Homo sapiens: one gene and its partner. The protein of the gene in region 2 interacts with the protein of the main gene of each other region in a biochemical or structural test. Each region holds a gene or a part of one and is shown on either strand. Other genes may lie near its edges. The genes, in order: NELFB and NELFA.

Evidence for each region.
Region 1: the proteins of NELFA (region 2) and NELFB form a complex in vitro, tested with the Homo sapiens proteins (one study listed by BioGRID).

What each region holds. Positions count from the first base shown.
Region 1 is NC_000009.12:137,253,290-137,268,197, forward strand, and holds the start of NELFB (negative elongation factor B), read left to right. Parts: upstream 1-2,037; 5' UTR 2,038-2,076; coding exon 2,077-2,322; intron 2,323-2,617; coding exon 2,618-2,781; intron 2,782-3,039; coding exon 3,040-3,139; intron 3,140-3,534; coding exon 3,535-3,765; intron 3,766-9,747; coding exon 9,748-9,933; intron 9,934-10,955; coding exon 10,956-11,068; intron 11,069-12,587; coding exon 12,588-12,690; intron 12,691-13,041; coding exon 13,042-13,137; intron 13,138-13,654; coding exon 13,655-13,797; intron 13,798-13,950; coding exon 13,951-14,057; intron 14,058-14,908. Other genes in the region: protein STPG3, read left to right, coding at 1-174. UniProt on the Homo sapiens protein: Essential component of the NELF complex, a complex that negatively regulates the elongation of transcription by RNA polymerase II.
Region 2 is NC_000004.12:1,996,274-2,011,181, forward strand, and holds the start of NELFA (negative elongation factor A), read right to left. Parts: upstream 12,702-14,908; 5' UTR 12,687-12,701; coding exon 12,477-12,686; intron 11,774-12,476; coding exon of another isoform or gene 11,690-11,773; intron 1-11,689. Other genes in the region: uncharacterized protein LOC124900839, read right to left, coding at 12,733-13,488. UniProt on the Homo sapiens protein: Essential component of the NELF complex, a complex that negatively regulates the elongation of transcription by RNA polymerase II.

The DNA of each region.
Region 1 (14,908 bases), on a different chromosome or scaffold from region 2:
CATGGCCTCCCCCGGGGCTTTCCCAGGCCTCCCCTGGGACTTGGGGCCCCAGCCTGGCCTTCTGACCCTCTGGGCACCCCGATGCACCCTTCTGGCTGGCCAACCCTTCTATGGGCTGTGGACAAGGCTGGCCCAGCCTGGATCCCCCATCTGCCCATCTCCCCGCTACACTGAGATGCTGTTGGTTTTCCCGAGCTCTGTGGTGTGCAGTTGTCTGTCCTTCACCCGGGGGCGGTCCTAGAGATATGGCTGCCGCTGGGTCATTTCCGGCTTTCCCTGTTGAGGGGTCTCCATTCAGCTGCCCCTGAAAGGTGCTCTCTTCTCTAGGGTGGCAGCCTGTGACTGACCCTGAGCTCTAGCCTGGAGCGAGATGGGAGGTGGGCTCTGTGGGACACCCCCACCCAGCCGTGTCACTCAGGGGCCTGGTCTAGCTGCTGTCCACCTGAGGGTCAGCTGCTTGCCGAGCCAGGGAACTGGGAAGGAGGCGTCAAATGCCCTGAGCCGCCACCTCCAGGTGGGGTCGGCCTGGCCAGACCTCAGGAAGGGCCCAGGGATCTGCTCACCAGGGCCCAGCCCCACTTCCCCTAGGCCTTGAGCTGAAGACCTGGCTGGGCTTAGTCACCTGTGCCCTGAACACTCTGGCCCAGGGCCCTGCAGACTCCACTCCCGGGGCCTTCACCTGCTGGGACCCTGCACTGCCCCTGCCTGCAACTTCGCCTGGCTGGGGCCTCCCTTGTCATCACTGGCCTGCCCTCCTACCCAGGGTCGGGCCCCAAGGCTGCCACCTTGCAGGAGCCTTACCTGCGGTGCCGTCACCCGCACCTCCCCAGGTCCTCCCCAGACCCAGGACCCAGACCAGGCCCAGAGCTCAACCCCTTCAAAAAGGCTCTGGGCAGCTGCTTCTGTGGCCTCAGCACCACCCCCTTTCTCAGAGAGGAATCCCAGGCTCAGGATTGTGTGTGTGCTGTGACCCTTGTCCTCCTCTGCCACCGAACCAGCTGGGGGTTGGATCAAGGCACTGGAACCCTCGCCCTAGGGCTGACCAACTTGGCCAGCGGCAAGAGAGCTGTGGTAGCCATGGCCTTGGGAGCTCGGCCCGGCTTGTGGGAACAGGAGCTCTGCTCACGGCTGCACCACCAGGCACCCCTGGTGAGACCCAAAGCTAGGAGTGGGAGCGGCAGGAAAGATGGAGCGATCTCCTCCAGCTGGGCTGAGGAGGGAGGGCTTCCTGGAGGAGGTGGTGGAGGAAGAAGCCTTCAAGGAAGAGCAAGAGTTTGCTGGGCAGCGGGAAAGAAATTTCTAGAGAAAATTTCAGCAGCGGAGACCGAAAAGAGAGAGGGTGTGTGTAGGGGGCTTGGCGCGGCACAGCCTGCGGGAGGGCGGCGGGCTGGAGAGGCGGGGAGGCCCGGGGAGCCCACCCGCCTGGGATAAGAAGGGACACTGTGGAACCTGGACTCTCCTTCACGGCTCCGCGGAGCTCGGTGGGCGCCACAGCCTCCCGGTGCCTGGGAGGGCGGCCGTCGCTCGCGCTCCCGCTGCGGGCCCGGTCTCCGCCAGGCCCCGGCCCCCTGAAGGCGCTCAGATCTCAGTTTTGGCGACAGCGCCGGGGTGGGCTTCGTGCCCGTTTCACGCGGAGGAACCCACGCTCAGGAGGGAGTCTGCGCCTGTGTCCGGCCCCTGCGGGGCAGAGGGGCGGGGAGCTCAACCCCCGGCAAAACGTCCCCGCTGCGCGTGGCTGCCGCGAGATCTGCAAGAGCGTTTTCCACGCTTATGTACACGAAATTCACTCGGCTGCGACGACGTCCGTTCCCGGAGCAGACGGACCCTGAGTCCGCCCCCCACGCCCTCACCCGCCCTCTTCTGCCAGAAAGCCCGGGCGCGGGCGGGACCGGGTGGGCGCATGCGCGCTGGGCTGGCTGGGCGGGGTCTCTCGCGCCGGGTGAGGGCGCTGCTCCCAGGAACCTGCGCGCGGCCCCGGCGGCGTTTCCCGGGGGCCGGTTGGCGGGCGGACCTGGGCGGTGCGGGGCGGAAGTGGGCGGCTGCGGGACGCGCGCGGAGTCGCGCGGCGGGCGGGACCTGGCCGAGCTGGAGGGCGCCGGGGAGCGGGGCTCGGGCGGTCCCCGAGGCCCGGCGGAGCGGGCTTCTGGGGTGTCTGCGGCGGCGCCGGGGGAACGGGCTGGGGATGGGGCGCCTAGCCGGGCGGTGGCCGGGGCCTCGGCCATGTTCGCGGGGCTGCAGGACCTGGGCGTGGCCAACGGCGAGGACCTGAAGGAGACCCTGACCAACTGCACGGAGCCGCTCAAGGCCATCGAGCAGTTCCAGGTGGGGCGGCCCCCGGGGCGGGGGGAGCCCAGTTGGAGGGCCGGGCCGCCTGCTCGGGAGTCGGGCCTGGCGGAGGCGCCGGAAGTTTTCCGGCTTTCTGCTGGTGGCTGAGTCCTGTTCTGGGGGTGGAGTCCGGAGCCAGCACCCCTTTGCTGGACGGCTGGGTGGCTTTCGGTGGCTGCGGTTACCGCCAGCACGGCTGGGAACACCTGGGTGCGTGCCTCCCTGTGCTCTCAGGACCTCGGGGTGCCCGGGCGCACTGGGCTGCGTTTGAGGTTTCTCTTGGCTTCCTCAGACAGAGAATGGTGTGCTGCTGCCATCTCTTCAGTCAGCCCTCCCCTTCTTGGACCTGCACGGGACGCCGCGGCTGGAGTTCCACCAGTCGGTATTCGATGAGCTGCGGGACAAGCTGCTGGAGCGAGTGTCAGCCATCGCTTCGGAGGGGAAGGCTGAGGAAAGGTGGGTCAGCGGGAGGGGTGGGCAGGTGAGATGTGCAGCCGGCCTCTCAGCCTTGGATCGACTCAGGGGCATTTATTGTCCTTTTGGCTCCACATCCTTGCTCCCAGAGGTGGCCTGGGCCTGTGTCTGAGTGACCCCTTGACCCATGTGTCCTGGGCGTGGAGGCTTGTCCTGGTAGCTGTTATCTGTGTAGGGACAGGCAGGTAGCTGCTGCGATTTGGCGCATCGCTGCACCATCAATCCTGTGAGTTGTTCCAGGTACAAGAAGCTGGAAGACCTTCTGGAGAAGAGCTTTTCTCTGGTGAAGATGCCGTCCCTGCAGCCCGTGGTGATGTGCGTCATGAAGCACCTGCCCAAGGTAGGGCCCTAACCCTAACCCTGATGGCGTGGACCGTCCGCCCACTCTCATGCCCTTGGTTAGTGGAAGTTCCGGTGGCCGCCTAGCTCCGGGAGCTTCCTGTGCTGCCTGCCCAAGTGCTGTCCATGGTGAGCTCTGTGCTGACTTCTCCCACATGAGCCGCGTGGAGACCGAACCTTAGCACTGGAGTTAGGGTGTGGGGCCCCTCCTGGGAAAGAGCTGTTGGTATTTAGCATGTCTGTCTGACATGCTGGGGCCGGGGAACCAGTCATAGGTGCCCTGTGGGGTGGAGCTTAGCTCGAGGTGGTCTCTGCGGGGCTGAGGCCTCTTGGCTTGTCTTGAAGGAGACCCAGGGACACAGGTGCCACTCACAGGCAGCCTGTGGTGTCATGTAGGTTCCGGAGAAAAAACTGAAGCTGGTTATGGCTGACAAGGAGCTGTATCGAGCCTGCGCCGTGGAGGTGAAGCGGCAGATCTGGCAAGACAACCAGGCCCTCTTCGGGGACGAGGTTTCCCCACTCCTGAAGCAGTACATCCTGGAGAAGGAGAGCGCTCTCTTCAGTACAGAGCTCTCTGTCCTGCACAACTTTTTCAGTCCTTCCCCCAAGACCAGGCGCCAGGGCGAGGTGAGGGGACAGGCCGTGTGCGGGGTGGGGCACCTCTTGGGGATGCCACGGCTAGCGCCTTCAGCTGCCTGGGGATCAGCACTCTGCTGCCCTGTGAATGATCGGGTGGTTCTGCTTCTTGGCTGGGTGGTGGGGGAGGGCTGGCTTGTACACATGCTGGAAAGAAAGTTGGTTGTTTTTCTGTTTGCATTTTACTTTTCGTTAAAGTGATATATGGACAACATTTAAAATCTGCGGAAAGCCCGCTCATGTGAAGTTAATCCCCCCTCCCCTACTTTTTTTCTTTTTCTTTGAGACGGAGTCTCGCTCTGTTGCCCAGGCTGGAGTGCAGTGGTGTGATCTCGGCTCACTGCAAGCTCCCGGGTTCACTCCATTCTCCTGCCTCAGTCTCCCGAGTAGCTGGGACTACAGGCGCCCGCCACCATGCCTGGCTAATTTTTTTTCTTTTTCTTTTTTTTTTTTTTTGAGACGGAGTTTCGCTATTGTTGCCCAGGCTGGAGTGCAATGGCGTGATCTCGGCTCACTGCGACCTCCGCCTCCCAGGTTCAAGCAATTCTCCTGCCTCAGCCTCCCGAGTAGCTGGGATTACAGGCATGCATCACCACGCCCGGCTAATTTTGTATTTTTAGTAGAGATGGGATTTCTCCATGTTGGTCAGGCTGGTCTTGAACTCCTGACCTCAGGTGATCCGCCCCCCTCGGCCTCCCAAAGTGCTGGGATTACAGGGGTGAGCCACCGTGCCTGGCTTTTTTTCTTTTTTTTTCTTTTTTAAGAGACAGGGTCTCACTCTGTTGCACAGGCTGGAGTGCAGTGGCGTGATCACGACTCGCTGCAGCTTTGACTTCCTGAGCTAAAGTGATCTTCCTGAGTAGCTGGGACCACAGGCACGTGCCACCACACTGGGGCTACTTAAAAATATATATATATTTTTGTAGAGGTGGGGTCTGGCTATGTTGCTCAGGCTGGTCTTGAACTCCTGGGCTGAAGCGATCCTCCCACATCAGCCTTCTAAAGTGCTGGGATTACAGACATGAGGCACCATGCCTAGCCGAGATTTGTTGGGGTTTTTTTTTTTTTTTTTTTTTTTGAGACAGGGTCTCACTCTGTCACCCAGGTTGGAGTACAGTGGTGTGATCGTGGCTCACTGCAGCCTCGACCTCCTGGACTCAAGCAATCCTCCTACCTCAGTCTCCTAAGCAGCTGGGACCACCGGTGTGTGACACCATGCCTGGCTAATTTGTATACTTTTTGCAGAGTTGGTGTTTCGCTGTGTTGCCCAGGCTGGTCTCGAACTCCTGGGCTCAAGTAATCTGTCTGCACACCTCAGCCTCCTGAAGTGCTGGGATTATAGGTGTGAGCGACCACAACTGGTTGTGAGATTTTTTAATTAGCCAATTTTTTTTTTTTTTTTTGAGACAGAGTCTTGCTCTGTCACCCAGACTGGAGTGCAGGGCCTCAATCTCGGCTCACTGTAACCTCTGCCTCCTGAGTTCAAGCAATTCTCCTGCCTCGGCCTCTCGAGTAGCTGAGACTACAGGCGCGCCCCACCATGCCTGGCTAATTTTTTTATTTTTTTGTTTAGTACAGACAGGGTTTCACCATGTTGACCAGGCTGGTCTTGAACTCCTGACCTCAGGTAATCCGCCCACCTTGGCCTCCCAAAGTGCTGGGATTACAAGTGTGAGCCACTGCGCCCGGCCCTAACCAACTTTAAACTAGCACTGTTCAGTGGAAAAAGCGAACTATAAGTTAAGATTTTTCAGCATCCACATTAAGAAAAAAAAATGAGATCAACTTCATTAATGTTTTCTTTGGTCCAGTATATCCAAAATATTATCTTTCAGCATGTAATTCATGTGAAAGATTGGGCTGGGTACGGTGGCTCACGCCTGTACTCCTAGTACTTTGGGAGGCGGAGGTGGGAGGATCGCTTGAGCTTAGTAGTTAAAGACCAAAGGGAGACCTTGTCTCTACAAGAAAAAAAAATTAAGCTAAGCATGGTGGTGCGTACCTGTTGTCTCAACTACTCAGGAGGCTGAAGCAGGAGGATTGCTTAGGCCTCGGATATTGAGGCTGCAGTGAGGTATGATTGAGCCACTGCACTCCAACCTGGGCGACAGAGTGAGAGATCCTGTCTCAAAAGGAAAAAAAAAATATTGAGCTATAATGCTTTTTGCGGGAGGATCACTAAGATTTGAAACCTGGTGAGTCTTTCATGCTTAGAGCCCATCTGAACTACTGCACTTCAAACGCTGAGCAGTTAGTGTGGCTCTGGGTTCCCTTCGGGCCGTGGTTCCTGACCATGTGCGTGGGCAGCAGCAGGCTTGTTGGGGGTGGCAGTGCCACCTCTGTCCTCCCTTCCCTGTTTGTTTATTCCCAGTTAGGTCCTCCATGGGCCTTTTTCTTGTTCCATTGCTGTCAGACAGAGCCCTTGGACCCCTCTGCTAACTGTGGGGTGCCCTGCATTTCCCAGGCCTTTCTCCTATCGCCTGTCTCTTCTGGTGACTTGGTGCTGCCTATACTGATTTCTGTCTGTAAGGGAAATCAGTCGGCTTGGTCGGCTTAGTCCTAGGTTGATTCTCTTTTATTTTTATTTTATTTTATTTTATATATTTTTATCTTGTTTTATTTTACTACTTTTTAAAATTTATTTTTTATTTTTTTATTATTTATTTATTTATTTTTTTGGAGACAGAGTCTTGCTCTGTCACCCAGGCTGGAGTGCAGTGGCACGATCTTGGCTCACTGCAAGCTCCGCCTCCCGGGTTCACTCCATTCTCCTGCCTCAGCCTCCCAAGTAGCTGGGACTACAGGCGCCTGCCACCATGCCCGGCTAATTTTTTGTATTTTTTTTTTTAGTAGAGACGGGGTTTCACAGTGTTAGCCAGGATGGTCTCAATCTCCTGACCTTGTGATCCACCTGCCTCAGCCTCCCAAAGTGTTGGGATTATGGGCGTGAGCCACCGTGCCTGGCCTATTTTTATTTTTATTTATTTTATTTTATTTTATTTTTGAGACAGAATCTTGCTCTGTTGCCCAGGCTGGAGTGCAGTGGTGCAATCTCGGCTCACTGCAAGCTCCGCCTCCCGGGTTCACTCCGTTCTCCTGCCTCAGCCTCCCGAGTGGCTGGGACTACAGGCGCCCACCACCACGCCCAGCTATGTTTTTTGTATTTTTAGTAGAGATGGGGTTTCACCATGTTAGCCAGGATGGTCTCGATCTCCTGACCTCATGATCCACCCGCCTCGGCCTCCCAAAGTGCTGGGATTACGGGCGTGAGCCACTGAGACCGGCTATTTTATTTTATTATTTTTTTTAATTTTTAAAATTTATTTTTTAAAATTTTTTTTATTTATTTTATTTTAATTTTATATTTTGTTTTATTTTATTTTAGTTTGTTTTATTTTTTTTTTTTTGAGACGTAGTGTCCTTCTGTTGCCCAGGCTGGAGTGCAGTGGTGTGATCTCAGCTCACTGCAACCTCAGTCTCCCAGGTTCAAGTGATTCTCCTGCCTCAACCTCCCGAGTAGCTGGGATTACAGGCACCCACCACCACGCCCGACTAATTTTTGTATTTTTAGTAGAGATGGGGTTTCACCATGTTGGCCAGGCTGTTCTCGAACTCCTGGCCTCAGGTAGTCCACCCACCTTGGGCTCCCAATTTGCTGCAATTACAGGTGTGAGCCACCGTGCCCAGCCCGATTCTCTTTTAAAAAGCTAAATTAGGCCGGGTGCGGTGGCTCACGCCTGTAATCCCAGCACTTTGGGAGGCAGAGGTGGGTGGATCACGAGGTCAGGAGTTCGAGACCAGCCTGACCAACATGGTAAAAACCCATCTCTACTAAAAATACAAAAATTAACCAGACCTGGTGGTGTGCGCCTGTAGTCCCAGCTACTCAGGAGGCTGAGGCAGGAGAATCACTTGAACCCGGGAGGTGGAGGTTGCAGTTAGCCAAGATTGCGCCACTGTACTAGGCGACAGAGTGAGACTCAGTCGCAAAAAAAAAAGCTGGGCGCAGTGACTCACGCCTGTAATCCCAGCACTTTGGGAGGCCGAGGCGGGTGGATCATGAGGTCAGGAGATCGAGACCATCCTGGCTAACATGGTGAAACCGCATCTACTAAAAATACAAAAAATTAGCTGGGCGTGGTGGTGGGTGCCTGTAGTCCCAGCTGCTCGGGAGGCCGAGGCAGGAGAATGGTGTGAACCTGGGAGGTGGAGCTTGCAGTGAGCTGAGATCACGCCACTGCACTCCAGCCTGGGTAACAGAGCACGACTCGGTTTCAAAAAAAAAAAAAAAAAGTAAAAAAAAAAAAAAACTGGGTCAGGTGTGTGGCTCATGCCTGCAATCCTAGCACTTTGGGAGGCCGAGGTGGGTGGATCACCTGAGCTCAGAAGTTCAAGACCAGCCCGGGCAACATGGTGAAACCCCGTCTCTACTACAATACAAAAAATTAGCCAGTCATGGCAGCCGGCGCCTGTAATCCCAACTACTTGGGAAGCTGAGACAGGAGAATAGCTTGAATCCGGGAGGTGGAGGTTGCAGTGAACCAAGATCTTGCCATTGCACTCCAGCCTGGGTGACAGCGCAAGACTCCGTCTCAAAAAAAAAAAAAAAAAAAATTGATTGGGTGTAGGGACCAGCCCCACAGGGTTGATGGGTTTTTCTCCCCGTGTGCGGAGATGAGAGATTGTAGAAGTAAAGACACAAGGCAAAGAAATGAAAAGACAGCTGGGCCCGGGGGACCATTACCACCAAGACGCGGAGACTGGTAGTGGCCCCGAATGTCAGGCTGCGCTGATATTTATTGGATACAAGACAAAGAGGCAGGGTAAAGAGTGTGAGCCATCTCCAATGATAGGTAAGGTCACGTGGTTCACGTGTCCGCTTGACAGGGGGCCCTTCCCTGCCTGGCAGCCTAGGCAGAGAGAGAGAGAGAGGAGAGAGAGAAACAGCTTACGCCGTTATTTCTGCGTATCAGAGACTTTTAGTACTTTCACTAATTGACTACTGCTATCTAGAAGGCAGAGCCAGGTGTACAGGATGGAACATGAAGGCGGACAAGGAGCGTGACCACTGAAGCACAGCATCACAGGGAGACGGTTAGGCCTCTGGATAACTGCGGGCAGGTCTGACTGATGTCAGGCCCTCCACAAGAGGTGGAGGAGCAGAGTTTTCTCTAAACTCCCCCGGGGAAAGGGAGACTCCCTTTCCCTGTCTGCTAAGTAGCGGGTGTTGTTCCTTCACATTTTTCGCTACCGCTAGACCCTGGTCCGCCTGGCAACGGGCGTCTTCCCAGATGCTGGCGTCACCGCTAGACCAAGGAGCCCTCTGGTGGCCCTGTCCAGGCATAACAGAAGGCTCGCACTCTTGTCTTCTGGTCACACCTCACTATGTCCCCTCAGCTCCTATCTCTGTATGGCCTGGTTTTTCCTAGATTATGATTGTAGAGCGAGGATTGTTATAATATTGGAATAAAGAGTAATTGCTACAAGCTAATGACTAATATTCAAATATAATCATATCTATGATCTATATCTAATATAACTATTCTTGCATATTTTGTTATACTGGAACAGCTCGTGCCCTTGGTCTCTTGCCTTGGCACCTGGGTGGCTTGCTGCCCACAGTTGGGTGTCGTGGCATGCAATTGTAGTCCCAGCTACTTGGGAGGCTGAGGCAGGAGGATCACTTGAGCCAGGAGGTCAAGGCTGCAGTGAGCCACAGTTGCAGCAGTGCACTCGAGCCTGGGCAACAGAGCAAGGCCTTGTCTCAAAAAAAGTAATAAAAAAAATAAAAATAACAGAACCTGCTACCATCAGACTGGGGGCCAATATTTAATGAGAGGAGGGAATGTTTTCTGCCAAAAAGTAGGAAGGACAGATGTCCAGAGAGAGGGCCGCGCTGTCGCCGGGCGTGACGTCCCTGTGTCTGGCGGAGCCCAGGACGGTCTGGGGGCCTGACAGTGCCTCTTGCTGCAGGTGGTGCAGCGGCTGACGCGGATGGTGGGGAAGAACGTGAAGCTGTACGACATGGTGCTGCAGTTTCTGCGCACGCTCTTCCTGCGCACGCGGAATGTGCACTACTGCACGCTGCGGGCTGAGCTGCTCATGTCCCTGCACGACCTGGACGTGGGTGAAATCTGCACCGTGGACCCGTGCCACAAGGTAGCACTGCCCTCCCTCCTTCCCCCCTACCCTCCTGAAGGTAGTGCTGCCCTCCCTCCCTCCTTCCCTCCCACTCCCCGGCCCTCCCTCCTTCCCCCACTGCCCTCCTGAAGGTAGCGCTGCCCTCCCTCCCTCCCTCCTTCTCCCTTCTCCCCCGCTCCCCGGCCCTCCCTCCTCCCCCTCCGCCCTCCTGAAGGTAGCGCTGCCCTCCCTCCCTCCTTCCCCCCAACTCCCCGGCCCTCTCTCCTTCCCCCTCTGCCCCTCCTGAAGGTAGCATTGCCCTCCCTCCTTCCCCCTGGCCCTCCTGGCTCCTCTCCTCTCCGTGGGTTTGGCTTGGCCCGGGACCACCTGGGCGCCCTTCTCTCCCATGCCTGTTTCCTGGGCTCTGGTCTTTCTGTCCTGTGTGCTGGCCCTTTGGCTTCTCTCCAGACCCTGATGGGGGAAGGAGGCTAGTCCCCTGCATCTGAGCCAGAGACCTGGCCGTTCCCGGGGACTCCCTTGCCCCGTCCAGCCCTTTCTGTGTTCCCGAGGGCTGTATGACCTACGGGCTGGACCTTGACCATTGCCCCAGCTTCCTCCCATCTTTCCACCTGGCCTGTGGCCCTCCCCTTCCCCAGAACCCTGGGTGCTGCTTGTTGGCCAGGTACCAAGTGCTCTAGGAACGGGGTTTCCCTTCATACGGACCCTCCAGCCCTGAGACCATCTTTCCGGGACTTGGGAGTCACCCTCCGAGGCTTCCATTGCTTGGAGTGCTGCAGTGGCCACCCCCACACTCAGGGTGCCATGAAGGAGTCCGTTTTTAGAAAGAAACATCATCACTTTCTCCACCACTGTCCTGACCCTGCTGCTTTGGCCGGGAGGTGTGGGGAACACTGCACCGTCAGGATGACTGGTGCCTGCTGCCGCCCCCCGCAGCAGCTATGATTGAACAAGAGGCCAGGGCCTGGAGCTGTGTTTGGGGCCTGGGTCTCTGGTCATCCTGGGAGGTTTGGGCTGGTCCCGACCGTGCTTCCTCCTTGCAGTTCACCTGGTGCCTGGACGCCTGCATCCGAGAGCGGTTCGTGGACAGCAAGAGGGCGCGGGAGCTGCAGGGGTTTCTCGATGGCGTCAAGAAGGGCCAGGAGCAGGTGCTGGGGTGAGGGTCGGCTCCACGAGGCCTCTGCCCCTCAGGGCCCTGCGTGCATCCGGTCTGCGCTTGCTGTGTTTTGCCGTGGGTAGCAGGCGTTTATTCCCGGATATTGCTTTTTCTTTTGTTTTTTTCGAGACAGAGTCTCGTTCTGTAGCCCAGGATGGAGTGCAGTGGTGCAATCTCTGCTCACTGCAACCTCCGCCTCCTAGGCTTAAGCCATTCTCCTGCCTCAGCCTCCCAAGTAGCTGGGATTACAGGCACGCGCCACTGCGCTCAGGTAATTTTTGTATTTTTTAGTAGAGACAGGGTTTCACCATGTTGGCCAGGCTTGTCTTGAACTCCTGACCTCAGGTGATCCACCCGCCTCAGCCTTCCAAAGTGCTGGGATTACAGGCATGCGCCACCGTGCCTGGCCTCCTGGATGTTTCAATAGAGCTATGCCGGGCACTGCTGGCCCACAGCTTAGGGACATGGTTGTCGGGATGTGTGTGGGTAGCAAAGTCTCCCTCCTCAACTCTGCATTCTGGAGCCAGGCCCAGGGGCTGGGGTCTGGTGTCTGCAGTGGCGTGGGGTCAGCCTCTGAGCTGAGGGGCATCCATTGGCATTTGCTTTCCAGCATCCTCTGGCTGGTGTATAGACACAGTGCTGCCTGGCCCTGCCTTTGCCACTTTTTTTCTTCCTTTTTTTTTTTTTTTTTTTTTTTCTGAGACAGGGTCTCTGTCACCCAGGCTTTAGTGCAGTGGTACAGTCTCCCTCAACCTCCTGGGCATTGATCCTGCTGTCTCCGCCTCCCAAAGTGCTGGGATTACAGGCACACACCAGTGCGCCTGGCCGATTTTTGTTATCTTTAGTAGAGATGGGATTTCACCACCTCGCCCGGGCTAGTCTCAAACAAACAATCCACCGGCCTCAGCATCCCAAAGTGCTGGGATGACAGGCGTGAGCCACCACACCCAGCCTTTTTTTTGTTTGTTTTTTTAACTTTTTAATTTGAAAAATCTTTGAATAGGTTAAGGACAAATTGCAAACCTTAAGCTTTTTTTTTTTTTTTTTTTGAGACAGAGTCTCGCTCTCTTGCCCAGGCTGGAGTGCAGTGACGCGATCCTGGCTCACTGCAAGCTCTGCCTCCCGGGTTCAAGTGATTCTCCTGCCTCAGCCTCCCGAGTAGCTGGGACCACAGGCGACCACCACCACGCCCGGCTAATTTTTTGTATTTTTGGTAGAGACAGGGTTTCACTTTGTTAGCCAGGCTGGTCTCAGTCTCCTGACCTGGTGATCCATCCGCCTCGGCCTGCCAAAGTGCTGGGATGACAGGCTGAGCCGCCGCGCCCGGCCTGCCAAAGTGCTGGGATGACAGGCTGAGCCGCCGCGCTCGGCCATCCTTAAGCTTTTTGTAAGAAACCCAGCATGTGATGGGCACCCGCTGCCAGTCCTGAATTCAGCCTAGGCCACCCCTCCTGAGGACTGTGCCGCTGAAGGGAGGGGCAACAGGCGTCGCATTAATGCCAGGGCGGCCTCCTTCCAGGGACCTGTCCATGATCCTGTGTGACCCCTTCGCCATCAACACGCTGGCACTGAGCACAGTCAGGCACCTGCAGGAGCTGGTCGGCCAGGAGACACTGCCCAGGGTGAGTGTGGGCTTGGCCAGCAGCTGTCGGGGCCATGCGGCCACTCCGCTGGCTGCTCTGGGTGGTCAGGGTGTGGACAGCAGCGGCCAGGTGGAGGCAGCTGTTGGGGCCCTGTGGCCGCCCTGCTGGCTGCTCTGGTGGTCGGGGATGTGGACTGCAGTGGCCCAGGTAGAGGCGTGTGCTTCCCCGCTGTGAGACTGCGTTTCACCCCGTGTGTGGGGCTGGTGATCGCAGTCGTGTGGTCCTGGCCATGGGCACCAGAGATCCTGCTGAGTAACGAGTAGGGTCAGAGGAGCTCCATGGCCAGGACACAGCTGCCTGGGAGAGGCGCTGAGCCCGTCCTCCCTACAGGACAGCCCCGACCTCCTGCTGCTGCTCCGGCTGCTGGCGCTGGGCCAGGGAGCCTGGGACATGATCGACAGCCAGGTCTTCAAGGAGCCCAAGATGGTAACGAGCCTCCTGTGGGGGCTGCCAGTTTCCTACGAGGGGTTGTGGGCTGGAAGTGGGGTGGAGGGGGAGGCGCTAGCAAGGTGATTGTGGAGGCCCCTTTGGTCCCAAAGCTTCCTTCCTGGAGCTGCCCACCTTCCTTTTGGGAAAATGCCCACCAGGGAGGTTCTGGGGTGTCTCCGTGGACCCTGGCTGGTTCTGGGGTATCTCCATGGCCCGTGGCTGGTTCTGGGGTGTCTCCGTGGACCGTGGCTTGTTCTGGGGGTGTCTCCATGGACCATGGCTGGCCACAGGTGGTGACTACTCCATGTGGGTCCAGACCTAGAAGGGGGTTTGAGGAGATGGCCTGGGTGGGGGACTCGGGAGGTGGGAAGAGGGACCTGGGGACCTGGAGAGGAGGGAGGGTCGGTGAGGTATCTGGGGGAGTGGGAGGGCCAGGGGCAGGGTGTGTGTCACGTCAGGGTGGGGTGGGGCAGGGCCCGGGCCCGCGCCCGCTCATGGCCTCCCCTCCTCGTAGGAGGTAGAGCTCATCACCAGGTTCCTCCCGATGCTCATGTCCTTCCTGGTGGATGACTACACTTTCAATGTGGATCAGAAACTTCCGGCTGAGGAGAAAGCCCCAGTCTCATATCCAAACACACTTCCCGAAAGCTTCACTAAGTACGGGCTGTAGGGCCATGGTGCAGGGGTGGCCGTGGCGCAGGGATGGCACTGTTGCCCAGGGGGCTGCCTCAGGGCTGGGCAGGGGTCGGTGTGGGGCTGAGGTGGGGCTGAGGTGGGGCTGAGGTGGGGCTGATGGCGCCCCGGGCGCAGGTTTCTGCAGGAGCAGCGCATGGCCTGCGAGGTGGGGCTGTACTACGTCCTGCACATCACCAAGCAGAGGAACAAGAACGCGCTCCTCCGCCTGCTGCCCGGGCTGGGTAAGTCCTGACGGGCGGTGCCTGGCTGTGTCTTCCCTGCGGCAGCTGCCGTATGCAGTCCTGCCCAGGGTGCGGGCCCCAGGGCCCCCAGGAGCTGCCTTGTCTCCCCAGCCCACCTCCAACTTTGCTAGCTTTGTTTTCACCTTTTTTTTTTTTTTTTTTTTGAGATGGAGTCTTGCTCTGTCGCCCAGGCTGGAGTGCAGTGGTGCAACCTCAGCTCACTGCAGCCTCTGCCTCCTAGGTTCAAGTGATTTCTCGTGCCTCACCCTCCTGAGTAGCTGGGATTACAGGCGCGTGCCACCGTGCCAGGCTAATTTTTGTATTTTTAGTAGAGACGGGGTTTCTCCATGTTGGTTGGGCTGGTCTCGAACTCCTGACTTCATGATCCGCCCGCCTCGGCCTCCCAAAGTGTTGGGATGACAGGTGTGAGCCACCACTCCCAGCCTCGTTTTCACTTTTACTTTTGTTTGTAGTTTATTTTACTAGGAAAGGGAGAGGGAGTTCAACTTTGTGCTTTCCCACAAAAAGGTGATGTAAGAGCTGTCTTTATTTCATCCTAACTGGCGAGGGGCTTGGGACCCCTCAGGTGCTCAGAGAATGGAGCAAAGGGGAGGGAGAGAGATCCCCTGCCCCAGTGCCCCACCCCAGGTGGTGACAGGCCCACTTCCTCCTGGGGGCCTTGACGGGGGAGGGGTTGTTGCAAGCCAGGAAGAAGAGGAAGGGTCCAAATGGGCACCTTCAAGAGTAGAGCTGCAGGTCCCCTGGGAGATGGGGCCTCTTTAGCCTGCTGTGGGTCCCATGGGAGATGGGGCCTCTTTAGCCTTGCGGTACCCACTGTGACACAGACCCTG
Region 2 (14,908 bases):
TAAATTACACAGGGATCAGTGAAGAACTTACTGAAATTAAAAAATAGTGTGACGATACAGTTCTGTGACTATCAAAACTTGTGGGATGCGGCTTACACTGTAATTAGAAGAGAATTTATGGACATACGCACATACACACACGAAAAGAAGCCTGAGATTGGCATCCATCTTTAAAACTTAGAAAAAGAGCAACAAAGTAAGTACAAAGACAGGAGAAAGAAAATTAGTGAAACAGAAATCCAAGTTCAACAAAGCCAGAAGCTGGTAGTTTGAAAATTCTTATAAAATCAACAAACATCTGGTGAGATGGATCAAGGGGGAAAAAATAAGAAATAATCACTATACATGCTTCTGACATTTAAAAAGAAGATGTTTGAGCTGGTCATATTGGCTCATGCCTGTAATCCCAGCAATTTGGTCAACCAAGGCATGTGGATCACTTGAGGTCAGGAGCTTGAGACCAGACTGGCCAACGTGGCAAAAACCTGTCTCTACTAAAAATACAAAAATTAGCCGGGAATGGTGGCACACGCCTGTGATCCCAGCTACTCAGAAGGCTGAGGCACGATAATCACTTGAGTCTGGAAGGTGGAGGTTGCAGTGAGCCAAGATTGCACCATTGCACTCCAGCCTCGATGACAGAAGGGTATTTGAGACACTCTCTCTACAAAAAATTTAAAAAAAAAGAAAAGTAGGCAGGTATGGTGGTGCATGCCTGCAGTCTTAGCTGCTCAGGAAGGTGAGGCAGGAGATCACTTGAGCTTAGGAGTTTAAGGTTACAGTGAGTTATGATCACATCACTGCCACTCCAGCCTGAGTGACAGTGACACTATGCATTAAAACAAACAAAAAAAACAAAACCCATAAAAACAAAAATCAATACTGAAAAATCCTCCCACAAAGTAAATTTCAGGTCCAGAAGGCTTCATTACCAAGTTCTACCAAATATTTAGGAAGAAATCACTCCATTAGTAAACAAACTTTCCAAAGAAAAAGAAAAGACCAGATACATTACAAATCCTTTTTTAAGGGTAGCATAACCCCAATACCAAAATCCAACAAAGACAGTCTGGGTAAGTAAAACTACAGGTCAATCTCACCCAAGAACAAAGATATAGTACAAAATTCCTATACAAAACATCAGGATGATATAATCTAACAACATAAAATGACCAATTTAGGTTTACCGCAGGAATGCAAGGTTGGTTTATAATTAAAGCTATTTTGTTAATGTGGTGAATTACATGTCAATAGATATTTAAGCATTTGATAAAATTTAAAGTTCCTTTGTGCTCACACCCACTAGGATCGCTATATCAAAAAGATAACAAATGTTGGCAAGGATGTGAGAGACTGAACACTCGAAAATCACTATGGAGAAAGTAAGATGGTGTAGCCACTATGGAAAATAGTTTGGCAATTTCTCAAAATGTTAAATATAGAATAACCTGGGCAGCCCAGACAAGTGGTTTCCCCCCACTGAAGCACACTCCCTCCATCATGGGACAAAGTGCTTCATTAAATGGGTCCTGCTCCCTATGTCACCCAACTAGGTGAGACCCTCCAACAGGGGTTGTCAGACACCCTATACAGCAGTGACCCTACTGGCATCAGGTTGGTGCCCCTCGAGATCAGAGGTCCCAGAAGAAGGAGCAGGCACCCATCTTTGCTGTTCTGCAGCCTCCTTTAGTGACACCTCCAGGCATGGGAGTGAATCAGATGAATATGGCCTGAAGTGAACCCCCAGCAAACTGCAGCAGCCCTACAGAAGAGGGACATGACTACGGCAAGGAAAACAAACGAGCAGAAAACGACAACAGCATCAACAACAACAACAACAACCACAACAAAAGCCCCCATCCAAGGGTCAGCAGCCTCAAAGACTGAAACTAGACAAACTCACGAAGATGAGAAAGAATCAACGAAAAAATGCTGAAAACCCCAAAGGCCAGAGTGCCTCTTCTCCTCCAAATGATCACAATGTCTCTCCAAAAAGGGCGCAGAACTAGACGGAGGATTGGATGGACGAGCTGACAGAAGTAGGCTTCAGAAGATGGGTAATAAAAAAAAAAACAATGATGAACTAAAGGAGCATGTTCTATCCCAATGCAAAGAAGCTAAGAACCTTGATAAAAGGTCAGAGGAATTGCTAACTAGAATAACCGGTTTAGAGAGGAACATAAATGACCTGATGAAGCTGAAAAACACAGCACCAGAACCTCATGAGTCATCCGCAAGTATTAACAGCCGAATCCACAAAGCGGAACAAAGGATATCAGAGTTTGAACACCACCTTACTGAAATAAGACATGCAGACAACAATAGAGAGAAAAGAATGAAAAGGAACGAACAAAGCCTCCAAAAAACACGGGATTTCATAAAAAGACCAAACCTACTACTGACTGGAGTACCAGAAGGAGACGGGGAGAATGGAAACAAGCTGGAAAACACACTTAAGGATATTATCCAGAACTTCCTCAACCTAGAGACAGGCCAACATGCAAATTTGGGAAATACAGAGAACCCCACTAAGACACTCCATGAGAAGATCAACCCCAAGACACATAATCATCAAATTCTCCAAGGTCGAAATGAAGGAAAAACTGTTCAGAGCAGCCAGAGAGAAAGGCCAGGTCACCTACAAAGGGAAGCCCATCAGACTAACTAATGGCAGACCTCTGCAGAAACTCTACAAGCCAGAAGAGTTTGGGGGCCAATATTCAACATTCTTAAAGAAAAGAATTTTCAACCCAGAATTTAATATCCAGCCAAACTAAGCTTCATAAGTGAAGGAGAAATAAAATCTTTTTCAGACAAGCAAATGCTGAGGGATTTTGTTACCACCAGCCCCGCCCCGGAAGAACTCTGGAAAGAAGCACTAAATATGGAAAGAAAAACCAGTACGAGCCACTGAAAAAACACACCAAAATATAGAGACCAATGACATTACAAAGAAACTGCATCTAGTGTGCAAAATAACCAGATACCATCATGATTACAGGACCGAATTCACACATAACAATATTAACCTTCAATGTAAATGGGCTGAATGCCCCAATTAAAAGACACAGACTGGCAAATTGGATAAGGAGTCAAGACCCATTGGTGTGCTGTATGCAGAAGACTCATCTTACACGCAAAGACACACACAGGCTCAGAATAACGGGATGGAGGAAACTTCAAGCAAATGGAAAGCAAACAAAAAGACAGGGGTTGCAATCCTAGTTTCTGACAAAACAGACTTTAAACCAACAAAGATCAAAGAAGACAAGAAGGGTATTACACAATGGTAAAGGGAACAATTCGACAAGAGCTAACTATCCTAAATATATATGCACCCAATACAGGAGCACCCAGATTCATAAAACAAGTTCCTACAGACCTACAACGAGACTTAGACTCCCACACAATAATAGGGGGAGACTTTAACACCCCACTGTCAATATTAGATCAACGAGACAGAAAACTAACAAGGATATTCAGGATTTGAACTCAACTCTGGATCAAGTGGACCTAGTAGACATCTACAGAACTCTCTACCTCAAATCAACAGAATATACATTCTTCTCAGTGCTACGTGGCACTTACTCTAAAATCGACCATGTAATTAACTGGAAGTCAGCAAATGCAAAAGAACTGAAATCATAACAGTCTCTCAGACCACAGTGCAAATTAGAACTCAAGATTAAGAAACTCACTCAAAACCACACAATTTCATGGAAATTGAACAACCTGCTCCTGAATGACTCCTGGACAAATAATGAAATTAAGGCAGAAATCAAGAATTTCTTTGAAACCAATGAGAACAAAGAGACAATGTAGCAGAATCTCTGGGACACAGCTAAAGCAGTGTTAAGAGGGAAATTTATAGCATTAAATGCCCATATCAGAAAGCTAGAAAGATCTCAATTAAAAGACCCAGAGATGTAATTAACATCACAATTAAAAGACCCAGAGAGGCAAGAGAGCAAACTAACCCCAAAGCTAACAGAAAACAAGAAATAACTAAGATCAGACAAGAATTAAAGGACATAGAGACACGAAAAACCCTCCCCCCCAAAAAATATCAACAAATCCAGGAGCTGGTTTTGTGAAAAAATTAACAAAATAGACAGAATGCTAGCTAGACTAATAAAGAAGAGAGAGAAGAATCAAATAGACACCAAATAATAATAATGATAATAATAAAGATGCTATCACAACTGACCCCACAGAAATACAAACTACCATCAGAGAATACTATAAACACCTCTACACAAATAAACTAGAAAATCTAGAAGAAATGGATAAATTCCTGGGTGCATACACCCTCCCAAGACTAAACCAGGAAGAAGTCGAATCCCTGACTAGACCAATAACAAGCTCTGAAAATGAGGCAGTAACAACCTACCAACCAAAAGAAGCCCAGGACCAGACGGACTCACAGCTGAATTCCACCAGAAATACAAAGAGGAGCTGGCACCATTCCTTCTGAAACTATTCCAAACAATTGAAAAGGAGGGACTCCTCCCTAACTCATTTTATGAGGCCAACATCATCCTGATACCAAAACTGGGAAGAGACAACAAAAAAGAAAACTTCAGGCCAACATCCCTGATGAACATCAATGTGAAAATCCTCAATAAAATACTGGCAAACCGAATCCAGCAGCACATCAAAAAGCTTATCCACCACGATCAAGTGGCTTCATCCCTGGGATGCAAGGCTGGTTCAACATACGCAAATCAACAAGCATAATCTATCACATAAACAGAACCAAAGACAAAAACCACATGATCATCTCAACAGATGCAGAAAAGGCCTTTGATAAAATTCAACATCCCTGCATGTTAAAAACTCTCAATAAGCTAGGTATTAATGGAACGTATCTCAAAATATTAAGAGTTATTTAAGACAAACCCACAGCGAATACCATATTGAATGGGCAAAAGCTGGAAGCATTCTCTTTGAAAACTGGTACAAGATAATAAGGATGTCCTCTCTCACCACTCCTATTCAACATAGTATTGGAAGTTCTGGCCAGGGCAATTAGGCAAGAGAAAGAAATAAAGAGTATTCAAATAGGAAGAGAGGAAGTCAAGTTGTCTCTGTTTGCAGATGACATGATTTTATATTTAGAAAACCCCATCAACTCAGCCCAAAAACTTGTTGAACTGATAAGCAACTTCAGCAAAGTCCGAGAATACAAAATCAATGTGATTTTAATAGGCAAGCAGAGAGCCAAATCATGAATGAACTCCCATTCAAAATCACTAGAGAATAAAATACCTAGGAATACAGCTAACAAGGGATGTGAAGGACCTCTTCAAAGAGAACTACAAACCACTGTTGAAGAAAATAAGAGAGGGGCCGGGTGCAGTGGCTCACGCCTGTAATCCCAGCACTTTGGGAGGCTGAGGCAGGCAGATTACCTGAGGTCAGGAGTTTGAGACCAGCCTGGCCAACGTGGTTAAACCCCATCTCTACTAAAAATACACAAATTAGCCGGGCGTGGTGGCACAAGCCTGTAATCCCAGCTACTCGGGAGGCTGAGGCAGGAGAACTGCTTGAGCAAGGGAGGCGGAGGTTGCAGTGAGCCGAGATCGTGCCACTGCACTCCAGCCTGGCCGACAGAGCGAGACTCTGTCTCAAAAGAAAAAAAAAAAGGCCAGGCACGGTGGCTCATGCCTGTAATCCTAGCACTTTGGGAGGCCGAGGCGGACGGATCATGAGGTCAGGAGATCGAGACCATCCTGGCTAACACGGTGAAACCCTGTCTCTACTAAAAATACAAAAAATTAGCCAGGCATGGTGGCGGGCGCCTGTAGTCCCAGCTACTAGGGAGGCTGACGCAGGAGAATGGCGTGAACCCGGGAGGCGGAGCTTGCAATGAGCCAAGATCGCGCCACTGCACTCCAGCCTGGGCGACAAAGCGAGACTCCATCTCAGAAAAAAAAAGAAAAAACAGAAAATAAGAGAGTACACAAACAAATGGAAAAGCATTCCATCCTCGTGGATAGGAAGAATCAGTATCATGAAAATGGCCATACTGCTCAAAGTAACTTACAGATTCAATGCTATTCCCAACAAACTACCATTGACATTCTTCACAGAATTAGAAAAAACTATTTTAAATTTCATATGGAATCAAAGAAGATCCCATATAGCCAAGACAATCCTAAGCAAAAAGAACAAAGCTGGAGGCATCACGCTACCTGACTTCAAACTACACTTACAAGGCTACAGTAACCAAAACAGCATGGTACTGGTACCACAACAGACCTACAGACCAATGGAGAAGAACAGGGACCTCAGAAATAACACCACACATCTACCAGCATCTGATCTTTGACAAACCTGACAAAAACAAGCGATGGGGAAAGGATCTTCTATTCAGTAAATGGTGCTGGGAAAACTGGCTAGCCATATGTAGAAAACTGAAACTGGACCTCTTCCTTACACCTCATACAAAAATTAACTCAAGATGCATTAAAAACTTAAATGTAAAACCCAAAACCATAAAAATCCTAGAAGAAAACCTAGGCAATACCATTCAGGACACAGTCACGGCCAACAACTTCATGACAAAAATGCCAAAAGCAATAGCAACAAAAGCCAAAATTGACAAATGGGATCTAATTAAACTAAAGAGCTTCTGCTCAGCAAAAGAAACTATCATCAGAGTGAAGAGGCAACCTACAGAATGGGAGAAAATTTTTGCAATCTACTCATCTGACAAAGGGCTAATATCCAGCATTTACAAGGAACTTAAACATATTTGTAAGAGAAAAACAACCCCATCAAAAAGTGGGCAAAGGAGGTGAACAGATACCTCTCAAAAGAAGACATTTATGAGGCCAATAAACATGAAGAAAAGCTCTACGTCACTGATCATCAGAGAAATGCAAATCAAAACCACAATGAGATACCATCTCACGCCAGTCAGAAGGGTGATTACTAAAAAGTCAGGAAACAATAGATGCTAGCGAGGCTGTGGAGAAATAGGAAGGCTTTTACACTTTTGCTGGGAGTGTAAATTAGTTCAACCATTGTGGAAGACAGCATGGCGATTCCTCAAGGATCTAACACCAGAAATACCATTTGACCCAGCAATCCTGTTACTGGATATATACCCAAAGGAATATAAATCATTCTGCTATAAAGACACACGTACAGGTATGTTTACTGCAGCACTGCTTAGAATAGCAAGGACATGGAACCAACCCAAATGCCCATCAATGATGGACTGGATAAAGAAAATGTGATACATATACACCATGGAATACTACGCAGCCATAAAAAGGAATGAGATCCTGTCCTTTGCAGGGACATGGATGAAGCTGGAAGCCATCATCCTCAGCAAACTAACAAAGGAACAGAAAACCAAACATTGCATGTTCTCACTCATAAGTGGCAGGTAGTTGAACACTGAGAACACATGCACACAGAGAGGGGAACAACACACACCAGGGCCTAATAGGGGTGGGAGTGAGGGGAGGGAACTTAAAGGACGGGTCAATAGGTGCAGCAAACCATGGCACACGTATACCTATGTAACAAATCTGCATGTTCTGCATATGCATCCTTTTTTTTTTTTTTTTTTTAAAGAAGAAATAAAGGCCGGGAGCAGTGGCTCATGCCTGTAATCCCAGCACTTTGGGAGGCCAAGGCAGGTGGATCACAAGGTCAAGAGATGGAGACCATCCTGGCCAACACGGTGAAACCCCGTCTCCACTAAAAATACAAAAATTAGCTAATTAGCTGGGCATGGTGGCGCGTGTCTCTAGTCCCAGCTACTCGGGAGGCTGAGGCAGGAGAATCCCTTGAACCTGGGAGGCGCAGGTTGTGGTGAGCCGAGATCGCGCCACTGCACTCCAGCCTGGCGACAGGGCAAGACTCTGTTTCAAAAAAAAGAAAAAAAAAGAAGAAGAAGAAAAAAGAAAACATTACATTAAGTGAAAGAAGTCAGGCACAAAAGACCAGATGTATGATTCTATTTATATAAAATATCCTGAATAGACAAATCTATAGAAGCAAAAAGTAGATTACTAGTCACCTAGGAGTGGGGAGGAAGAGGACTGGGCAAATGCTAATGAGTGTAGGATTTATTTGGGGGATGATGAAAATGTTTGAAAATTGACTAGCATGACCATCAAACCTGTAAATATACTAAAAACTACTGAAGTGTACATTTTAAATGGTGAACTACCTGGCATAATTATATGGTACATAAAATAATATCTTTTTTCTTTTGAGACAGGGTCTCATTCTGTCGGCCAGGCTAGAGTGCAGTGATGCAATCATGGCTCGCCGCATCCTCAACCTCCCAGGCTCAAGTGATCCTCTCGCCACAGCCTCCCAAGTAGCTGGGACCACAGCCATGTGCCGCCACCCCTGGCTAATTTTTATATTTTTTATGGAGACAGGGTTTCACCATATTGCTCAGGCTGATCTCGAATGCCTGGGTTCAAGCAATCCGCCCATCTTGGCCTCCCAAAGTGCTGAGATTACAGGCATGAGCTACTGCACCCAGCTATACATTATATTTTAATAAAGCTTTTTTTTTTTTTTTGGAGACAGAGTCTTGCTGTCGCCCAGGCTGGAGTGCAGTGGCGCGATCTCAGCTCACTGCAAGCTCTGCCTCCTGGGTTCACGGCATTCTTCTGCTTCAGCCTCCCTAGTAGCTGGGACTACAGGCGCCTGCCACCATGCCCGGCTAATTTTTTTGTATTTTTTCTTTAGAGACGGGGTTTCACCATGTTAGCCAGGATGGTCTCGATCTCCTGGCCTCGTGATCCGCCCGCCTCGGCCTCCCAAAGTGCTGGGATTACAGGTGTGAGCTACTGCACCCAGCCAATAAAGCTATTTTAAAAAAATTCATGATTAAAAGATTTTTTTTTACAAGTCTTCTAAGAAGAGAATTTCCTTAACTAGATAAAGGGTATTTATTAAAGACAACAGGAAACATAATGCTCACTGGCAAAACATTCCGAGTTCTCCCTGTGTGATCGGAGGTAAGACAATGAGCTGGAGGGTCCTAGCCAGTCCAGTGAGACGAGAAAAAAAACAAAAGGTAATTGGAGAAAGAAAAATAATATGAAGTGCACAGAAAAATCAAGGAGATTCTATAGAAAAAAAAAATTTTGCAACTAGCAAAACTTTAGCACAGATACTAGTCACAAATTCATTATCCAAAAATCAGGCTGGGCATAGTGGCTCACCTGAGGTCAGGAGTTCGAGAGCAGCCTGGCCAACATGGTGAAACCCCATCTCTACTAAAAATACAAAAATTAGCCAGGTGTGGTGGTGCATGCCTGTAATCCCAGTTACTCGGGAAGCTAAGGTAGGAGAATCACCTGAGCTCAGGAGGAGGAGGTTGCAGTGAGCTGAGATCGCGCCACTGCTCTCCAGCCTGGGTGAGAGAGTGAGATCTCCGTCTAAAAAACAAACAAACAAACAAACAAACAAAAACAAAAATCAACGCATTTCTATATACCAGCAACAAGTAAAAACTAAGACTTTAACAGATACCATTTACAACGGCATGGAAAAATATGAAATAGGTGGTAATATATGAGATGGAAGACCCCTACAGAGATCACAAAGAACATCTAAATAGATAAGCCCACACCCACAAATTATAGGATGCAATATAAAGAGGACAGCACCCCAGAATGAACTGCAAGTTCAGCTCAGCCTTAAAATCCCAGCAGGCAGGCTCTACGTGTTTAAGAAGTAAGTATATAAGATACATGTGGAAGTGTGAAGGGACAAGAATAGCCATAGATGATCCCGGAGAAAGATACAGTGGGAGGGTTTGCTCCGTCCGCTAACAAGGCTTATAAATAAAGTGACAAGAACCGACTTAGTGGGTTATTAGCACATCGATATGTAAATGACCAAAAGAACAGAGCACAGCCCAGAAACACATCCACAGCAGAAGCTGCAGTGCAGATCAATGGAAAAGGACAGTCATTTCAATCAACGTTGGGTGCTGGACTAATTGCACATCCATGTGGAAAATTAGACTCCCTGCTTCACACAATCATCAATTCCACGCAGACTGAAGATTCAAGTGCGAAAGGTAAAACTGTACAGCTACGCCAAGATAACCCAGGGAGTGTTCCGGGCATGTCCCTCGGGGAGACACAATAGGCACCAATGATAGTGGGCGGATGAATACACCATCTATGTTAAAACTAGGAGCTTCTATTCATCCATGATTCCAGGAAAAGGGCTGGGCGCACAGATCACACCTGTAATCCCAACACTATGGGAGGCCAAGGCAGGAGGATCACTTGAGGCTAGGAGTTCAAGACCAGCCTGGGCAATACAGTAAGACCCCCATCTCCATACACATGCACAAAAATTAGCCAGGCGTGGTGGCAGCGCATCAGTCCCAGCTACTACAGAGGTTTAGGAGGGAGGACTGCTTAAGCCCAGGAGTTCAAGGTTAAAGTGAGCTATGATTATACCACTAGACTCTAGCCTGGGTGACAGAGTGAGACGCTGTCTCAAAAAAAAAAAAAAAAAAAAAAAAAAGGATTCCAGGAAGCTAAGTCAAAGTCAAAGGACAACTGGGAGATATTTGTAACTGAAAAAGGACTGATATCTAGCATTTATAATAAATAATAAAAAAGACACTCTTACAAAACAATGGGAAAAAAGAGAATTTAAAAGCAGATTTGAATATACAATTCTCAAAGCAGAAAACCAAACAGCAGGCCGAGTGCCATGGCTCACACCTGTAATCCCAGCCCTTCAGGAGGCTGAGGCAAGCAGATTGCTTGAGGTCAGGAGTTCAAGACCAGCCTGGGCAGCATGGTGAAACCCTGTAGTCCCAGCTACTCAGGAGGCTGAGATGGGAAGATCTGAGGTGAGGAGGTCAAGGCTGCAGTGAGTCACGATGGTGCCACTGCACTCCAGCCTGGTTGACAGCGCCAGACCCTGTCTCAAACAAAACACAAACACAAAAACAAAACACTCTGAAAAATAATTTGGCATGATCCTATGATCCTCACAATTCCACTCCTAGATGTTATACCCTAGAGAAATCCAAGATTCCAAACACCTGAACATATGACCGTAATGTAGTAACGGGATGATTTACAAGAGCACAAAAGCTAAGCGTGTCACTGTGGCAGAATGGATAAAGTGCCTCGTGCTCACAGACAGGAATACCACGCAGCAGTGAAAATTAAACTGCAGTCAGCTGCAACGTGGATGAAACTGTCACGGCGTCGACCAAAAAGACACATGCACGCCACACACAAAATACACTATGATACCATCACACTAACTCCAAATCCGGCAACCAAGCTGTGCCATTTAGGGGTGCATAAATAATTGCTCACACCGGGGAGATGGCACAGAAATGATTACCTTTCCAAAATGAGGAAGGGGAAAGGAAGAAGGCCGTGATTACCAGTGGGAGGCTTCCAAGGAACAGGCATGGTTCTACTTCTCCACCTGTGTAAGGATCACAGGAGTGGCTCGCGATGCTATTATTATTCGTTAAACTGAACAAAAATGCACTTTTCCATACATGTCATATCTCAATCAAAAGCAATTACAACCTATAATAGCTAATAATACATCAGTAGCCAGGAACGTTTAAACAACCATGGGGCTTCAATAGTCTGCAAAACTACTCGGTTTATTTCGCACGGAAAGCGATACAATATAAAGTTTAGGAAAAAAGAAAACAAACCTCACACACCCACTTATTGGAATGACGCAAAACGGCGTGTAGAAAAGAGTAAAACGGACACAGAGCGCTCCGGACGGCCGGGGTCTTTGCGAGGTGAGAACAAGAAAATCCAGTCAGCGGACACTGGAGCTACCGAGCCCAGGCCGCCCCTTCCTCACGCGGGGGTTTCTCTCGGGATCCCCGCCCTCGCCCAGGTCACCAGGGCTGCGTCCCCGACGGGAAACCCCGATGGGAGACCCCGCTGGGGCCGGCGCACCCCCGCTCCAAGAGTCGGTCGCTTCGGCACGGTGGGGGATTAGGGTGGTGAGGACCGAAGGCGGGGGAGGCGGGGGCGGGTGGGGATGAGTACCCGGGGGCCCAGGGAGGGGAGTGAGGACCTGGGGGTCGTAGCGAGAACCCGGGGCCCGGCGGGGAGGAGATTGAGGATCCCAGGGGAGGTGAAAACTTGGGTAGGGGTGAGGACGAAAAGTAGGGAGGTGAGGACCCTAGTGGGGGATTCCCAGGGGGCGAGGAGGGGCGGGGGGTCCTGAAGACCCACGGTGGGGATGAGAACCGAGGTGGGAGATGAGGATCGAGGCGGGGGATGAGGACCCAGGGGGAGGTGAGGACTGGAGGGAGGTATTCGGAGGAGCGAGGAGGGGGCGTGAGGGCGGGCCGGGGGGGTTAACAGTCTGAAGGGGGATGGGAAGGTTGGGGGAGGGAGCGAGGAGGGTCCGGAGTTGGGTGTGCGGGTCGGAGGTGGGAAGGTTGGGAATCTGGGGGCCGCGGGGCGCCACGCCTGCCTTACCTCGTCCACCGTGCGGCGCGGGAGGTGCAGCGTCCCGAGTAGCAACTTGAGCTTCACTGCCGACGAGAGGCCATGGAAGCAGAGACGGATGTTGTCGATGACCGCGGCCGTGAGCAGGGACGCGATGCTGGGCGGCGCCCACAGCTCGTCCGTGGCCCCCAGCTTGTTGTGCAGCCACAGGCCCGTGTCGCTCTCCCGCATGGACGCCATCTTGGGGGAAAGCGCGCGCCGCTGCCCCGGCATCTTATGAAGACACCTACGCGTCCCTCGCTAGGACCCCAACATGGCGGCGCCCGTCGGGCTGCGGGCCGCAGAGGCGGCGCAGGTGGCGCGGTCCCACGAGCGGGGCTTCCCGGGAGAGCGCTTCTGGGTGGCGACCGCGTCTCCGGGTAGCGGCCGCGTCTTCGGGAAGCTTTGTGGCAAAGCCGAGAGCCGGAAGGACGGGGTGCCGCTGAGCAAGGACTATCGGCTTCCGTAAAACATCATGGCGGCGCCCTCTGCTGGCTCTCGGGAAGACCGCAAAAAATGACGTCACGAGCAGGCGCGCGTATTCGCGTCTTGGGAGCCCGGGCTGCGGCCTGGCATTCGCAGTGCAGGTGTCAAGCGCCGCAGACTTGCTGCTCGCGCGGTGGGGCGGAGGCTCCCTGTGGCACCTGCCCCGCTGTCCGCTCTTCGCTTTTTCCCCGCTTGGGTCTCGGCGCGGACCGTGTGGACGCCCCGCCCCCGCGGGCCCAGCACCTGCACGGAGAGGAGCCGCGGCCCTGCGGAGCGAGCCTGCGGGATCCCGGTCGCAGCGCTGAGCTTCCGTCCCCCGCTGAGCCCGCTCTGCCCGTGGCGCGCCGCCGACGGGGCTGCGCTGAGCATGCGGGTCGGAGGGCGCTCGGGAGCTGTCCAGGGGCACTCGTGACCCCACAGTGCAGGGAGGCCCCGGCCCCCAGTCGGGCTGGAGCCGCCAGGCAGGAGCCAGTAGTGAACTTTTCAGTTTTAAAAGCTTGTCATTAGATACAAACATGAGTAAAAGTTAAACTTCATTTTATTAAATTCGTTTTACCCTTTTGTCTTTTTGACGAGGCCTTCCTATGTTGGCCAGGCTGGTCTCAAACTCCTGGGCTCAAGCGATCCGCCCGCCCGCCTCTGCCTCCCAGAGTGCTGGGGTTACAGGTCGGGGCCGCCTTGCTTGGCTTCTGTATTATATCTTTTTTTTAAAAGATCTTTTCCTTATTGTTCCACTGCCATGCTCCTGCCGCCGTTCACAGCTATTGCCACTGGGCGGTGGGAACGCCGGGAGAACAGGGCTCAGCCCAGCTGCTAGCAGTGCCCTGGCCCTGGCGGCTTGAACTTGGCAGTCCTGCGGAAGTCACACGGGGGAAACCCGCAAATGCTACAAATCAGTGCTGGAGCGGTGGTTTTGTTGATTGCTTAAACTGAAGAAAGTGATAGAGAAAATGTTGATGATAAAGATTAAACTTAAAACTGTCATGTCGACAACCGTTACATTGCAAATAGCACATAAAATTTAAGAGAATATTTTTTAAATGATTCAAAAGTGTCGAATTCAGCAAAGACAAGTTATTGACTAATGGGTGAAGTTGTGACATCAGTGGGGCTAGTGCTGAAAGAAGTTTAATGATTAGGCCGGTCACGGTGGCTCACGCCTGTAATCCCAGCACTTTGGGAGGCCAAGGCGGGCGGATCACCTGAGGTCGGGAGTTCGAGACCAGCCTGGCCAGCATGGAGAAACCTCGTCTCTACTAAAAATACAAAACTAGCCGGGCTTGGTGGCGCATGGCTTGCCTGTAAGCCCAGCTACTCGGGAGGCTGAGGCAGGAGAATGGCTTGAACCCGGGAGGCGGAGTCTGCGGTGAGCCGAGATTTTGCCATTGCACTCCAGCCTGGGCCACAAGAGCAAAACTCCCTCTCAAAAAAAAAAAAAAAAGTTTAATAATTATAATCTGAGGGTAAGAAATAGTTTAACAGTGGACGACATATCAAATTTAGTATGAGAAGAGTGAAAGTTACTTCAAGTTGTGAAATCATGATTGAACCGTAAACATTAGTTGGTTGAAATGAAAATTTTTGTTCACAGAAACCTGTGTGCAAACGTTTATAGCAGCTTTATTTATAATAGCCCCAAACTTGAAACAATCCGAATGATTCTGACCCCCAACTGTCTGTAGCTTTCTGTAGGATACGCAGCACTTTTCTGTATACAGTGCTTGATGCATCTTGAGTCTTCAGTTTTATGCAGGAAAAATCCAAGTTAACATCTGGCTTAACCAAGAAGACAAACCACTAGGAGGACTTAGTTACAGCATCAGAAAGCAATGGATTAATATTCAGAATGAAAAAAGGAATGCTTGTAAATCGACGAGAAAAAGACCGACAATAGACAAATGTGCAGAAGATAAGAATAGGCAATTCACAGCCTGGCC